Homo sapiens: one gene and its partners. The protein of the gene in region 1 interacts with the protein of each later gene in a pairwise test. Each region holds a gene or a part of one and is shown in the gene's direction. Other genes may lie near its edges.

What was found. The genes of interacting proteins can lie anywhere in the genome.
Region 2: the proteins of SLC10A1 (region 1) and IFTAP interact in a two-hybrid assay, tested with the Homo sapiens proteins (one large-scale study listed by BioGRID and IntAct).
Region 3: the proteins of SLC10A1 (region 1) and LNPEP interact in a two-hybrid assay, tested with the Homo sapiens proteins (one large-scale study listed by BioGRID).
Region 4: the proteins of SLC10A1 (region 1) and IFITM2 interact in a two-hybrid assay, tested with the Homo sapiens proteins (one large-scale study listed by BioGRID).

Annotation. Positions count from the first base shown.
Region 1 is NC_000014.9:69,774,916-69,777,578, reverse strand, and holds the end of SLC10A1 (hepatic sodium/bile acid cotransporter), read left to right. Parts: intron 1-1,190; coding exon 1,191-1,297; 3' UTR 1,298-2,163; downstream 2,164-2,663. UniProt on the Homo sapiens protein: As a major transporter of conjugated bile salts from plasma into the hepatocyte, it plays a key role in the enterohepatic circulation of bile salts necessary for the solubilization and absorption of dietary fat and fat-soluble vitamins.
Region 2 is NC_000011.10:36,636,002-36,639,501, forward strand, and holds part of IFTAP (intraflagellar transport-associated protein), read left to right. Parts: intron 1-49; coding exon 50-116; intron 117-3,500. UniProt on the Homo sapiens protein: Seems to play a role in ciliary BBSome localization, maybe through interaction with IFT-A complex.
Region 3 is NC_000005.10:97,033,580-97,037,079, forward strand, and holds part of LNPEP (leucyl-cystinyl aminopeptidase), read left to right. Parts: 3' UTR 1-3,500. UniProt on the Homo sapiens protein: Release of an N-terminal amino acid, cleaves before cysteine, leucine as well as other amino acids. Degrades peptide hormones such as oxytocin, vasopressin and angiotensin III, and plays a role in maintaining homeostasis during pregnancy.
Region 4 is NC_000011.10:306,583-309,895, forward strand, and holds IFITM2 (interferon-induced transmembrane protein 2), read left to right. Parts: upstream 1-1,233; 5' UTR 1,234-1,610; coding exon 1,611-1,856; intron 1,857-2,430; coding exon 2,431-2,583; 3' UTR 2,584-2,813; downstream 2,814-3,313.

The DNA of each region.
Region 1 (2,663 bases):
CAGGACATTCAAACCCACTTTATAACACATTTCATTATAACTCTCAACATTAGTATATTCTTCCTAAGTACCTACCCAAATCCTTCAACTGTCCCTTCATGTCCATGAATTGAAGTCCCCTTCAAAACCTTTCTAGACCCTAGGGACTGTGATTTACACCCTAGGAGAAATACACAACTTTCCCTATTGGAATTTGTTACATTATACTAGCAAGCAAATGCCGATTCTCTCTCCCTTTGCAATTAGCTAAGATGTAATTAGGTTGCCAAGCAGCCAACACGAAACAAGTACAGGCTGACCATACACTAGAACCATTTTAGAAGCTTTGGTTCAAAGCTACAGTAGAGTTGTGAGAAAGAATCTACTCTGATGCTTATCTGAGAGGAACGCAAGAGATTTGCTGCCCTCTTACAAAAAGTGCACAGAAGTTTCTAGACCAACCAAATTCCCAGATTTGAGGTTTTAGTACCAGAAAGACCTGAAGTGACCTCAAAGGACAATACTCTATGGATCTTTAGCTCTCAAGACTTGAAAAGAACTTTCCTCACAGTGTATCTCAGAAGACCCCAGTGGAAACACTAAATCAAAGCAACGTATTTCTTTGGACCTAATGGCCCCAAGAAGCTATTCTCAGGGGGGAGGAATCTGTCAAGTTTTTATACTTTTCATTCCTGCACCTGATGGGAGAACAACTCTGTATAGAGAACTCTCCCATCTGTATAGAAAGGTGCAGGAATCAAAGCTATCTTCAAATTTGCATCACCGCCTACACCACGGACAAGAAGAGGTAGATCAATTGGGGGTTGGAGGGAAGAACTGGAAACTCTCTTGGTTAGACTTTCTCGAAGATCTTTCCTGCCTGCCTCCTCATTCCCTGAATGCAACACAGACCTTGCATACATAAACTCATCTCCTGTTGTTTTACTGTATAACGAAGTTAGAAGTGAAGTGATGATGAAGACACAATAGTCTAATTCATTAGGACTTTTACTACTAGTACTACCATTAGGGAGACTGAGGGGAAAGTGAGTTTAAAGAGTAAACCATGGGAGAGACGACAGAGATGGAAAATATATACTTAGCACACTCTAGGGCTGAGTTGGTATTTTTGTACTTTCCAGATTAAACAAGCTTCATTGTTCACTCCTCTTGTTCTCTCTCTACACCTGTAACCCTTTTTAACTTTACAGATAAAACAAAAATGATCTACACAGCTGCCACAACTGAAGAAACAATTCCAGGAGCTCTGGGAAATGGCACCTACAAAGGGGAGGACTGCTCCCCTTGCACAGCCTAGCCCTTCCCCTGGTGGCCTGGATTCTGGTCCCAAAGCAATTCTGAAAGCCAGTGTGGTAAACTAGAGAGAGCAGCAAAAACACCAGTCTTGCCTGAGTCTTTCTCCAGCATTTCCAGTACATCTATCAGAATCATCAAGTCTTGGCCGGGAACACAGACAGGGTGTCTACCCAAGAAGCCTCACCTATCCCCAACTTAGAATTTGCTACTTATTTTAAAGACTTGTTCAGTGACTGTAAACTCTATGAAACCAGAAACCGAATCTGCCTCTTGCTGGGATCTCTAAAAGTGTCTGATAAGCATCTTAAAGTCACTCAATTCCTGAACTAATCAATATATATGTTTAACCCATTACTCAAATACCCAAATCCCATTCCAAGTTTTGTGACCCAAAAGAGAAATAAATGCTCACAAGTGCTGTAGAATTAAACTTCAGAAGTTCTAACCTAAAAAGTTCAGATCCTATTCCTTCCCTTTTGACATTATTGGGATGATGCTCCCGAAAAGTCAAATTTGACATCAAGTATGCAAAAGTGAACACAGTAAGATGCAATCAGGCAAAACAAACTCAAAAAATAGCTAATGAAATGAAAAAACTGGGCGAATGCATCATGTTAGTAGAGGAGGAAAACTTTTGACAAGGAAAAACCAGGAAACAAACACATACATTAACACAATGTTACCTCACTAATAATCTCTTTTTTAAGTTCAGTAGGTATTTGGTTTTAACACAAGGCGCCCCCAAAACTGGGTACAGCAAACTACTGCCAAAATGAGTCGTTTCCCAATTCAAAGAAAAATGTTCAAATACCTAGAATTCACAAATTTCAAATTGTCTCTAATAAAATTTAAACATTTTGCATATCATATGTAAATAAGGATCAAGTAAATGATTAACAACTAATATTAACAATTACAAAAAGTCAATCATGCTTATTAGTTACTTGGGATTTTTATCATTTTGTATGGTCAGGTACAAATGAAACCAAGACAATATAGTTTTCGGGTATCAGTTTGGCAAATGTGCAGGACTAACAAGTACTCCCAACACCAAAACGAGAAACACAGATTTGGGTTACTAACATCCTCTTAAAAACGCAGATTTTTGACAAGGCTACCACCTATCATTTTTACTTATTATATCCATATATACCTACCTGTTCAAATTGTTTTCTCTATTATCTAACCAACATCATCTGCTAGGAGACTTGGTTACATACAAGTTATGTAAGAACACATTTGTTTAGCTTTTGAGGAAGACAGGGTTGGCCTCAAACCATTCTTAGAAAGGAATAAAGATGGCCGGATGCAGTAGTTCACACCTGTAATCCCAGCACTTTGGGAGGCCGAGTCGGGCAGATCATGAG
Region 2 (3,500 bases), on another chromosome or scaffold:
TTTCTTTAGGTCTATTCTGCTTAAAAATTATGTTAATTCTTTTTTCTAGGTAGATAATTTCCTAGATTTAGAAGATTTGGACATGGATGAAGAGATTAAACCCCAAATGAGTGAGGGTATGCTTTCTATTTCCTTTCTATACTACCTGACCTCTTTCTAGAAACTACAAATAAGGCTTTAGACAGCTTTCCTGTTTTTGGCAATTCTTACCTCCACCTCTCCTAAGACAGGAAGAACTAAAGTTGTGAGCTATTTTTTTCAGTAACAAAAATTTCACCTGAAAGGTCAAAGCTTTTTGAAGATTGTGAAACCTTTGGTCTTAAATGAAATAAAGATGTGCTCTCCCCCTTAACAATTCATCACAGGATTGATTCTTAGGTAATTGTCTCAAGTGGAGCCATTGTAAGTCAACTCTGTTTCCTAGAGGTACAGTCTTGTAAACTGAAATTATTTTTGAGGGACACATAAAATACCTATTAATCATAAAAATCATAAAAATATCAGAATTGATCACAAAAATAAGGCTGTCTTGCCTGGTATTAAAGGTTACTGAGGCTGAACCAAGTTTCAGTGGATTTGAGTGAACTAATGTCAAGGCCTTCCCACATGTAGAATAAGATGCAAAGCCTAGGCTGAAAATCTATGCAGGCTTCAGTGAACTATTCTAAAGAAAATAAAAGAAAATCCATTTTTTTGCTTTTAAAAATATTTATTATGTAAATTAAACCCTTAATACTAAAGATATATTGTAAATGTTTCTTCTGAGGCATTTTCCACATGGGCTGGATTGAAAAAGGCTTCATGCTAGTCTGTTGATGTTTATTTAGAGGAAAACTTTTTTCTTTCTAGTTAACATTTCTGGATAGGCATAGGTATCCTTTGTTTCTCGAAGGATGTTTGAAATATGTTCAAAATCAGGAAGTTTTTTTTTTTTTTTTTTAAACACTCATTCCTGATTTAACATGCAAGAATATATCAAAGTCAATGCCTAATTTTACAGAAGGGGCAGTTTCCACGGAGGTTTGGTTGTTGATGTTTAACTATTGTTTACTGTCTTTAGGTGGTCATAAACATGTTTTATGGTCATTAGTGTTGGGGGAGGATGGCTTATTTATAATCAGACAGAAGTTAAAGTGACTAGGTAAAGTTGGTTTAGGGATGGTGACTATCTGTACATTGGTTGTATAAACCTCTACTCTAGCTTCTTCAGCTGCTTGAATTTGAGAGGTTTTGGTAATTGGAAGAAATGAACATTTTTATTCTGCTTTCAAGCATCACACTACTCCGTGAAGGGATTGCTTCTCAAGCACACTATTAACCAGCAGATGTTGCAGATTCTTTACTTATTTGGTTTAAGTGAGATCAGAGGTCTAGAGGGATCACATCCTCCAGGGAGAGGTTCTCTAACTTTAATACCCTGAGTGGCTCTGAATTTCTATAATGAGAGCAGCAAAGGGACTCCAGTTGGATTAGAAGGGAGAGCTAAGGACTTGTCAGGAAGCTACATTTGTAGAGGAAGCACACTGTTTTGGGTTTTGGGTGATTTGGGGGAGGGAACCTTGTTAAAAATGCAGATTTCTGGATCTCCCTCCCAATAGAGAATCTAATTCAGAAGGTCTTTGGTGGCATCTGGTGATCTGCATTTTAACCGACACCCCCAATGATTCTAATATAATTAATTTGAGGATAACACGTGGAGACAAATGGTTCTAGTCTGCATGTAATACATATGCAATATAAAATAAATTTCATAAGAGGGCACAAAAGTACATGTTTTGGGTGCTTTTGTGATGGTTTAAATTTTTCACTTCTTACCAGTATGAGAACTCTGTATATTGACATAAACCAACATAGCCAACAGATCTGATTTTTGTTATGTCAATCTTTTTTTTTTTTTGAGATGGAGTCTCACTCTGTCGCCCAGGCTGGAGTGCAATGGCATGATCTCAGCTCACTGCAACCTCTGCCTCTCAGGTTTAAGCAATTCTCCTGCCTCAGCCTCCCAAGTAGCTGGGATTACAGGTGCATGCTGCCATGCCTGGCTAATTTTTATGTATTTTAGTAGAGATAGGGTTTCACTGTGTTGCCCAGGCTGGTCTTGAACTCCTGAGCTCAGGCAATCCACCTGCCTCGGCCACACCCCGCCCCACCGCCCGCCCGAGTGCTAGGATTACAGGTGTGAGCCCCCTCACCCGGCCCGTCAATCTTTTAAATCGCCTTTTTACCTTCTTCAGTATTTTCACATTGTTTTCTTTAAATATTTTTTTCAAGTTACATTTTTCAATTACCAGATTTATTTTAAAATATTGATAAAAACATCTTACTAGTATGATTTTTCCAGAAATCAGATAACAAGCCTTCTTGTATTTGTGTATAAAAGATTACTGAGGCTGAACCAAGACTTGAATGAACTCGTCAAGACCTTCCCACACATAGAATGATGTGTGAAGCCTATGCTGAAAATCAACCTAGGCTTCAGCAATCTATTCTAATTACTGAAAAGGCCACCAGGGCTTTACAATTTTCATAATGCACAATCTGGGTCATTTAAAGGGAAAAGAAATTAAATAGTTGGTGCCAAGGCGAATTTTAGTTTGGGCCTAATTTGTTTTACACTTCAGGAATGTGAGCAGAAGGCAAATATTTATATCAGATGGGAAATGTGACATTTTAAATAGTAAAGTTGCTTGTATAATTTTGGCAGCTGGGAGGTTTACTGATTAGATTCCGTTGTTATTGTTTAAGCAACAGATTTGCTTGGGGCAACAAGGAAGTGGCTTGCATATTGTTTTTCTACCATTGACTTTATTTGTTCACCCCATTCACTCTCATAAATATTCTCTAAGATTTAGGAGCATGATTCTTTTCTAATATTTGTTTTATCACTTGGCAGCCCAGGTGGAAAGATTGGAGATGGTTTTTCAGTGGAGCCAACTCTATTAAGCAATGGTATTAAGCAGTTTTCTGAGGGTAGCGTCTGCCACAGAGTTTGGTGCACTGTGTTTATTTGACATCAAGTTAACCTATTCTTCCTTTTTTGAATTTGAGATAAGGTAGTTAACCTGGTGACTGTCATGCCTCAGACAAACTGGCCCATACTTTTACCCAGCACAATTATTGTTTGGATCAGTTATTAGTTATTGTGCTGAGGACATTAGAATAGGAAGATTTTCTGTTCATCTTTATTTTTATGCTTCCTCGGTGGGCCCAGCCCAACCTCTTTTCTGGTCAAGTGCAAGTAGCTCAAGAGACTTTTTTTTTTTTTTAATCTACTTCTGAGATTCATACTGTCTTACACACATCTCTTGGTCAGCGGGTGTACTTATGGTGTGGCTGATTGTATTGACTGAGAATGGGCACTGATTCCTGCTCAAAGGTTGGCAGCCTTGTTTGATTTTCATTTTCAGGTTCTCCAGTACTGTACTTCTGCCTTAGTCCATTTATGTTGCTGTAAAAGAATACCTGAGGCTGGGTAAAGAAAAGAGGTTTATTTGGCTCAT
Region 3 (3,500 bases), on another chromosome or scaffold:
TACTTTTCTGTCACTACCTTTCTTACCTTGTCCTTTACATGGATATATGAAGAAAATTGAGGTTCAGCCTGTAGCAGCTCTCCTCTTCTGCCCTTCCCTTAGATTGTCTGTGTGGGCAGGTGTCTAAGAGAGTAGTTGATTAGCTTCAGGGATTCTTTGGTGGGTGTTGGGGTATATACTTTTGTATATGTATGTACATATTTTTATTTCTTTATTATAGTGTTTCATTGGGTACCCGGTCCTTCACTTGGATGTGTAGGTTCCTAATGAGCCATGGAGTTATGGATGTATAACAATCTGTTCTCCCTTTACCCTTTTAATGTATATGGGCAATAATTTTAAAGTAGTTTGGATTTTTTTAAGTTTTGAGGGGTGGGAGGGGTCTAAGGCAGAATATATCCTTTTTAAAAATGTATATATACTTTTCATTAACTATATTGTATTATTTCATGCTGTACCCAGTCCATTGCTTGGACTTACGGGTACCTAATGAAACGTGGAGGTCCGGATGTATGAAAATCTCCTCTTTTCCCCTTTCCTTATTGCCTCTGTAGGCAATAATTATAGAGTAGTATAGATGGTTTTTCTTTTTTATCCATCTGCCTATCTCCAGGAGGATGGGGTGTGCACTTTTAGAAATGTATATAAATGTTCTTGCTCCTTTTTCCTGTTACTTCATTGTGTGCCAAGGCCTTTCCATGGATACTTAGGTACGTAATGAAAATTGAGGTTCATTCTATGAAAAAATCTCCCCTTCTCCCCTTCCCTTATTGCCTGTCTTGGCAATGGCCAGTAGAGTAGTTATTTAAGGGATTTTGTTTTTTTGTTTTTTTGTTTTTTTTTTGGTAGGGGAGGTGGGGAATTTCTGGGTTTGTCTTTTTTTTAATGTATATAAAAGTTTGCTAGTTGTTGTTATTGTTGTTCTTTCACTCTCAACACAGTTTTTTGTTTGGAGTTGTAGGAATCAAATGTAATGAGGGACCCAGACCCGAGAGTGTGGTAAATATTCTTTGCCTTCCTCAGAGCCTGTATACACAAGCAAGTAGTATGTGAGCACTACAGGGCTTGGGTTTTGGTTTTTTGCTTTTGAGGGTTTTAATGAGGAGTGGGATTGTTGAGAGGAAAAGGCAAGATATATAATTTTTTTAATGTATATAAATGTTTTGCTCCTTTTTGATGTTAACTTCATTTTGAATCTGGTCCTTTGTATGACCACTTAGGTACTTAATAGTAATAAAGTTGAGATTGACTCTATGAAAAATATCCCATACTCCCCATCCCTCATTGCCTAGGGGGCAATGGTAGAATAGATGTTTGGTTTCTTTTGGGGGTGTCTGAGTGTATATGTGTGTGTATATACACACAAGAACACACATATTTATATACTATACACACACATTTTAATGTATATAAATATTTGCTACATTCTGTGTGTTATATAATGTGGTACCCAGTCCTCTGCTGGGACATGGATGTACATAATGAAACATGGAGGTCCAGACGTATGATAACTCTCCTGTTTCCCTTCCCTCATTGCCTACAGGGGCAATAGTTTCATATCTTGGGTTTTTTATTGTTTAATTTTTTTTTATGGGGAGGGGTTCTTTGGGTGGGTAATAGTCAGGGGGAAAGGACAGTGTCTATACTTTTTAAAGATGTATATAAATGTTTCATGTTATTGGTTTTGTACCTAGTCCTTTGCATGGATATATAGGTACCTAATGAAAATCGAGGATCAGTGTATGACAAATCTCCCATCCTCCCCTTTCCTTATTGCCTGTGTCGGCAATAGGAAGTAGAATAGTTGTGTGTTGTTTACTTACTTGTCTGTTTTAGAGAGATTTCTATTTTTGGTAGGGGAATATTCTTAATATGTTTTCATATCTTTATTTCATTTTGTAGTCTTTTGCATGGCTATGTAGGGACCTAATGAAAGTCGAGTTTCATAATATGACAGCTCACTTCTTTTCCTACATATTTCCTCACTTAGCAGTAGCTAGTGTAGTTATTTTGTGGTTATTTTATTTCATTCTCTAGGATCTATTCCATTAAGGATGCAAGTGTGTAGATGCATATATATCATTTGCTTCTTTCTTCCGCCATTATTTTCCTTTAACACTTAGTCCCTTGCAAGGGGTCTGACTATACCTAACAAAAATAAAGACCTACTAAATCCCTGCCATCTGGCTGGAAGGTGTAGCAGTGTATTAATGTAACTAATAGCAACAGGTGTGCAGCAGATAAGACAGGAGAAGACACTCAGCTATGGTTGAGTTGTGAAAGCTAATTAGATCCAGCATTTCTTATGTTGATTCAGATTGAATGAGGTAGTGAAAAGGGACCTGTGCTTTTGTAAATTCTAGAAAGGCAAGAGGACAATATTGAATAAAGCTGTGTTTAAACTTCATTGCTCATATATCTTTTAGTAACTGGTAAACCGGCGAAGCTGATAAGCCAATAAGAGTGCTGTCTAGAACGCATTTGCAAACCGTTAAGAGTAGCTTCTTTTTGAGGCCTGGACTTCTGATTCATCTATAGAAGTCTATTATGATTCCATCAATTGCATAGCTTGTGTACCTGGTAGAAATTGTGTCTTGGAATGACCCTTTCGAGTTATTGACATGGCTCTGATGAATAGAACATGAGCCCCAAAACTAAATCCAAAAGGAATTTTCTATCTTTCATCCCCCACATGTGGCAAGACAAGTTGGCCCTTTCTTACCCAGAGGTCTTTTGTGTGACTGCATCTTTCTCCTCCGTTCTCCATTGTGTGCTTTCCATTTTGTCTTTAGTGCCTATACTGTTAGGTGTTTTCTTCACTGGCATTCACAAATTTAAGCCATTGCTGCCTCATTAGCCTTGTATTTTGTGTGCATATCATGTATCCAGACCTGTATGTTCGCTTTAAGCATTCTTATATCACACTGTCTCCTCATCTACCATATGGTAAATGTTAAAACTCCACATTTGTCTGCATCAGGGAAAATGCATGGGCACACATCCTCCCTCCCTCCCTCTCTGCTCTCCTCCCTTCCTTCAGGCCTCTTAGCATTGTTTGTTTTCCCATTTCTGATACTACTACTCCATGCTGAAGATTTGCCATATTACTATTTTGGAAACATTGAGTGATAGAACTCCTAGAAAATTTGCAAAGAAATGTTACATACTGTATATCAAACTCTCAGATTCTAGTGTTGAAAAAGTAGCCTATACTTTGCTATTACTTATACCTGCTGCCATAGAAAAAAATAAGTTTATTCATGACACATTTACATTTGATCATAAATAAAAGAAAAAAGGGCACCTTTTTGGAGTTAGTCATGGTAGTCATTAGTGATATTTCTGAACAGTTCTTAATTTAAAATACTTCAAAGGAAGTAAAGGTCATGGCTTAGCTGAAGGAAATGCTCCAGAAATTGGACTGTGTAAACCATCAGTACAATAATACGCTGTGTATGTATGTGTATATAAAATGAGAATTATGGCATAATTGGAGCATT
Region 4 (3,313 bases), on another chromosome or scaffold:
GCCAAAGTCATCGTTACTCAAACACATCACTCTGCAGTTACACGGCTGCACGCTACCGTCATGTAAACTCTGGAATACTGACGTGGACCTGACCACCCGCTGAGGTGAAAGGCTACAGCAGGGTGAGCAGCTGCCCATCTCTGTAAATTCCACCCTCAGCGATGTCCTCTGCGGAGTCTGGCCTGGTGGGAGAATAAGCCCAGGAAAATGGGCCCATGTAGCACATCAGGAATTAAACAGGGCGCAGGTCGCGGTGCACATAGGCCTGCAGGCCACGTTCCTGCCCCTGTGACCCGCACTGTCCCCTCTGACAAGCTCAAGTGCACAGCATCAGCTCTGTTTGCTGCAATAGCCTCTGCCAAGGAAGGTCCAGGAAGAAGCCCAGAGGCCACACAAGGTGTTTCCACAGGGAGGCTGTAACCTCAGGAGCTGCTCAGAGGCAGCACCGGTTCATGGGAAAAACAGGCGGCAACTACAGGAAGCAGCTGGCACCCGTGTGAGGACCCAGGGAAGAGGCAGAGATGATCAGAACCTGGAAATCTGGAGGGTGCCCCAGGGACCAGCCAGCCAGAGCTCTGGGCAGCGTGGGTGCTGCTGGGCTGTGTGGAGCGGGTCTGGGAGCCGTCACCCAGGTGGGCCTCCAGGGGAAAGGGCCATGGCTTCTAACTCCACCGTCCAGGTCTCTGCTATTGGCATCCCACAGCCCCCTCTTCTGTCAGTGCTCCCAGAGTCCCCTTTCCTGGGCCTGGAGGGCTCCTTTGGGGCAGGCAACATTGGCCGCCAACCCTCTGACCTGCACCAGGAGACACGGGGACCTTTAACCCCCAAACCCGCATGGAGCAGGACTGCAACCCCAGCAAAGGACAAGGGATGTCAGCAGATGAGGCCTGTGACAAGTGAGATGAGGGCTTTTTTTTTTTTTTGAGACGGAGTCTGGCTCTGTTGCCCAGGCTGGAGTGCAGTGGCACAACCTTGGCTCACTGCAAGCTCCGCCTCCCCGGTTCACGCCATTCTCCTACCTCAGCCTCCCAAGTAGCTGGGACTACAGGTGCCCGCCATCACACCCGGCTAATTTTTTTTTGTATATTTAGTAGAGACGGGGTTTCACCGTGTTAGCCAGGATGGTCTCGATCTCCTGACCTCATGATCCTCCCACCTCAGCCTCCCAAAGTGCTGGGATTACAGGCGTGAGCCACGGCGCCCGGCAGAGGTGAGGGCTTTGGGGAAACGGTTGTGGGGCCTGGAGTGTGGAGGCGTCAGCGCAGGCCTGGCAGGAGCCCTGAACCGGGACAGTGAGGTCCTGCAGCTGCTGGCCTGGGGTGTGGAGACTCCCAACACAGGGGAAGTCTCCAGGACCCCACACCACTAACAAGATGAGACTTGTGCTCCTTTGGGCTCTAGAGAGGAAGCCCCTCTTAGCCCTCAGCCCCTCTTTCCTCCCTCTCCTAAAGTAATTTGATCCTCAGGAATTTGTTCTGCCCTTATCTGGCCCTGGCCAGCTCTGCATTTGACAAATGCCAGGAAGAGGAAACTGTTGAGAAAACGGAACTACTGGGGAAAGGGAGGGCTCACTGAGAACCATCCCGGTAACCCGATCACCGCTGGTCACCATGAACCACATTGTGCAAACCTTCTCTCCTGTCAACAGCGGCCAGCCTCCCAACTACGAGATGCTCAAGGAGGAGCAGGAAGTGGCTATGCTGGGGGTGCCCCACAACCCTGCTCCCCCGATGTCCACCGTGATCCACATCCGCAGCGAGACCTCCGTGCCTGACCATGTGGTCTGGTCCCTGTTCAACACCCTCTTCATGAACACCTGCTGCCTGGGCTTCATAGCATTCGCGTACTCCGTGAAGGTGCGTATGGCCCTGGCGGAAATCCAGGGGGTGCCGGTGAGCCTGGGGCTCCACCTGCCCACATGCTGCCTGGGGTGGGGACTTGTGTGTCCCTGTGACTGTGAGTTTGTGTGCACGTCTGTCCTGTGTGTGCCCACGTCAGTGGCTTTGTCTGTGTGATCTGTGTGTGTGTGTGGCTTGGGGAATCTGCCCAGTGCAGGTCTAGGAGGAGGCTCCAGGAGGCTGGCTGGCTGGCTCAGAGTCTGTCCCCGGCTATCCACTAGCCCAGAGCAGTTCTCCCTATAGCCCAGTAAGAAATTACACCTTCACCTTCCAGACTGGCACCCAGGCTCTCCCAGAAAGTGAGAAGGGAACTCACAGGTGACTTCACCCCATGGTGGGGAGAACAGCCTGTGCTGGGGCCAAGGCAGAAGGAGGATGAGCCCCGAGGCTCCTGGAGAGTCTGAGCCGGGTGAGGAAGGGGAGGAGGTGGTCCCTGATCTCAGGGCAGGGAGGAGACAGTGAGGAGCTGGAGCCATAGCACGCGGCTCTCAGCTGGGGGATCCTGGTCCCCTCACCATCTCCTCTCCCCCAGTCTAGGGACAGGAAGATGGTTGGCGACGTGACCGGGGCCCAGGCCTATGCCTCCACCGCCAAGTGCCTGAACATCTGGGCCCTGATTTTGGGCATCTTCATGACCATTCTGCTCATCATCATCCCAGTGTTGGTCGTCCAGGCCCAGCGATAGATCAGGAGGCATCATTGAGGCCAGGAGCTCTGCCCGTGACCTGTATCCCACGTACTCTATCTTCCATTCCTCGCCCTGCCCCCAGAGGCCAGGAGCTCTGCCCTTGACCTGTATTCCACTTACTCCACCTTCCATTCCTCGCCCTGTCCCCACAGCCGAGTCCTGCATCAGCCCTTTATCCTCACACGCTTTTCTACAATGGCATTCAATAAAGTGTATATGTTTCTGGTGCTGCTGTGACTTCACCTGGGGAGCGGTCCTGCTGGTTCTGAGATTAAATGTAATGCCAAACGTTCTTGCCTTAGCCACACCAAAGAATTGGGTGTGGCGGCTGCCCGCGGCGAGTGATGGAGACACAGACCAAGAGAAGAAAAAAACTGTAGGTTTTATTGAGCAGAGTGACAGTACAAAGCTTACACAGCATGGAAGGGGTCCGGAGAGGGTAGCCACTGTTGGTTTTGGGTGATTGCCTTTTAATCTCTTTAAGGCGGGAAATACATGTGGTGGGAAGATGTTACCAGAGAGAGAAACAAAGGCAGTAAATTATTTTGTGACATGTCTTAGATTTTGAGGAAAAACAGAATTGCAACTTAGGTTTTATCTAATTTTATCTACTTTATGACCTTGCAGCAGCATGGCAAAAGAGACAGGATTTTACAGGACTTTACAAAGTATGTTCACAAGGAATTGGAATTGGGAGCATAGATAAGGTCCGCTGGTCACAGAAAAA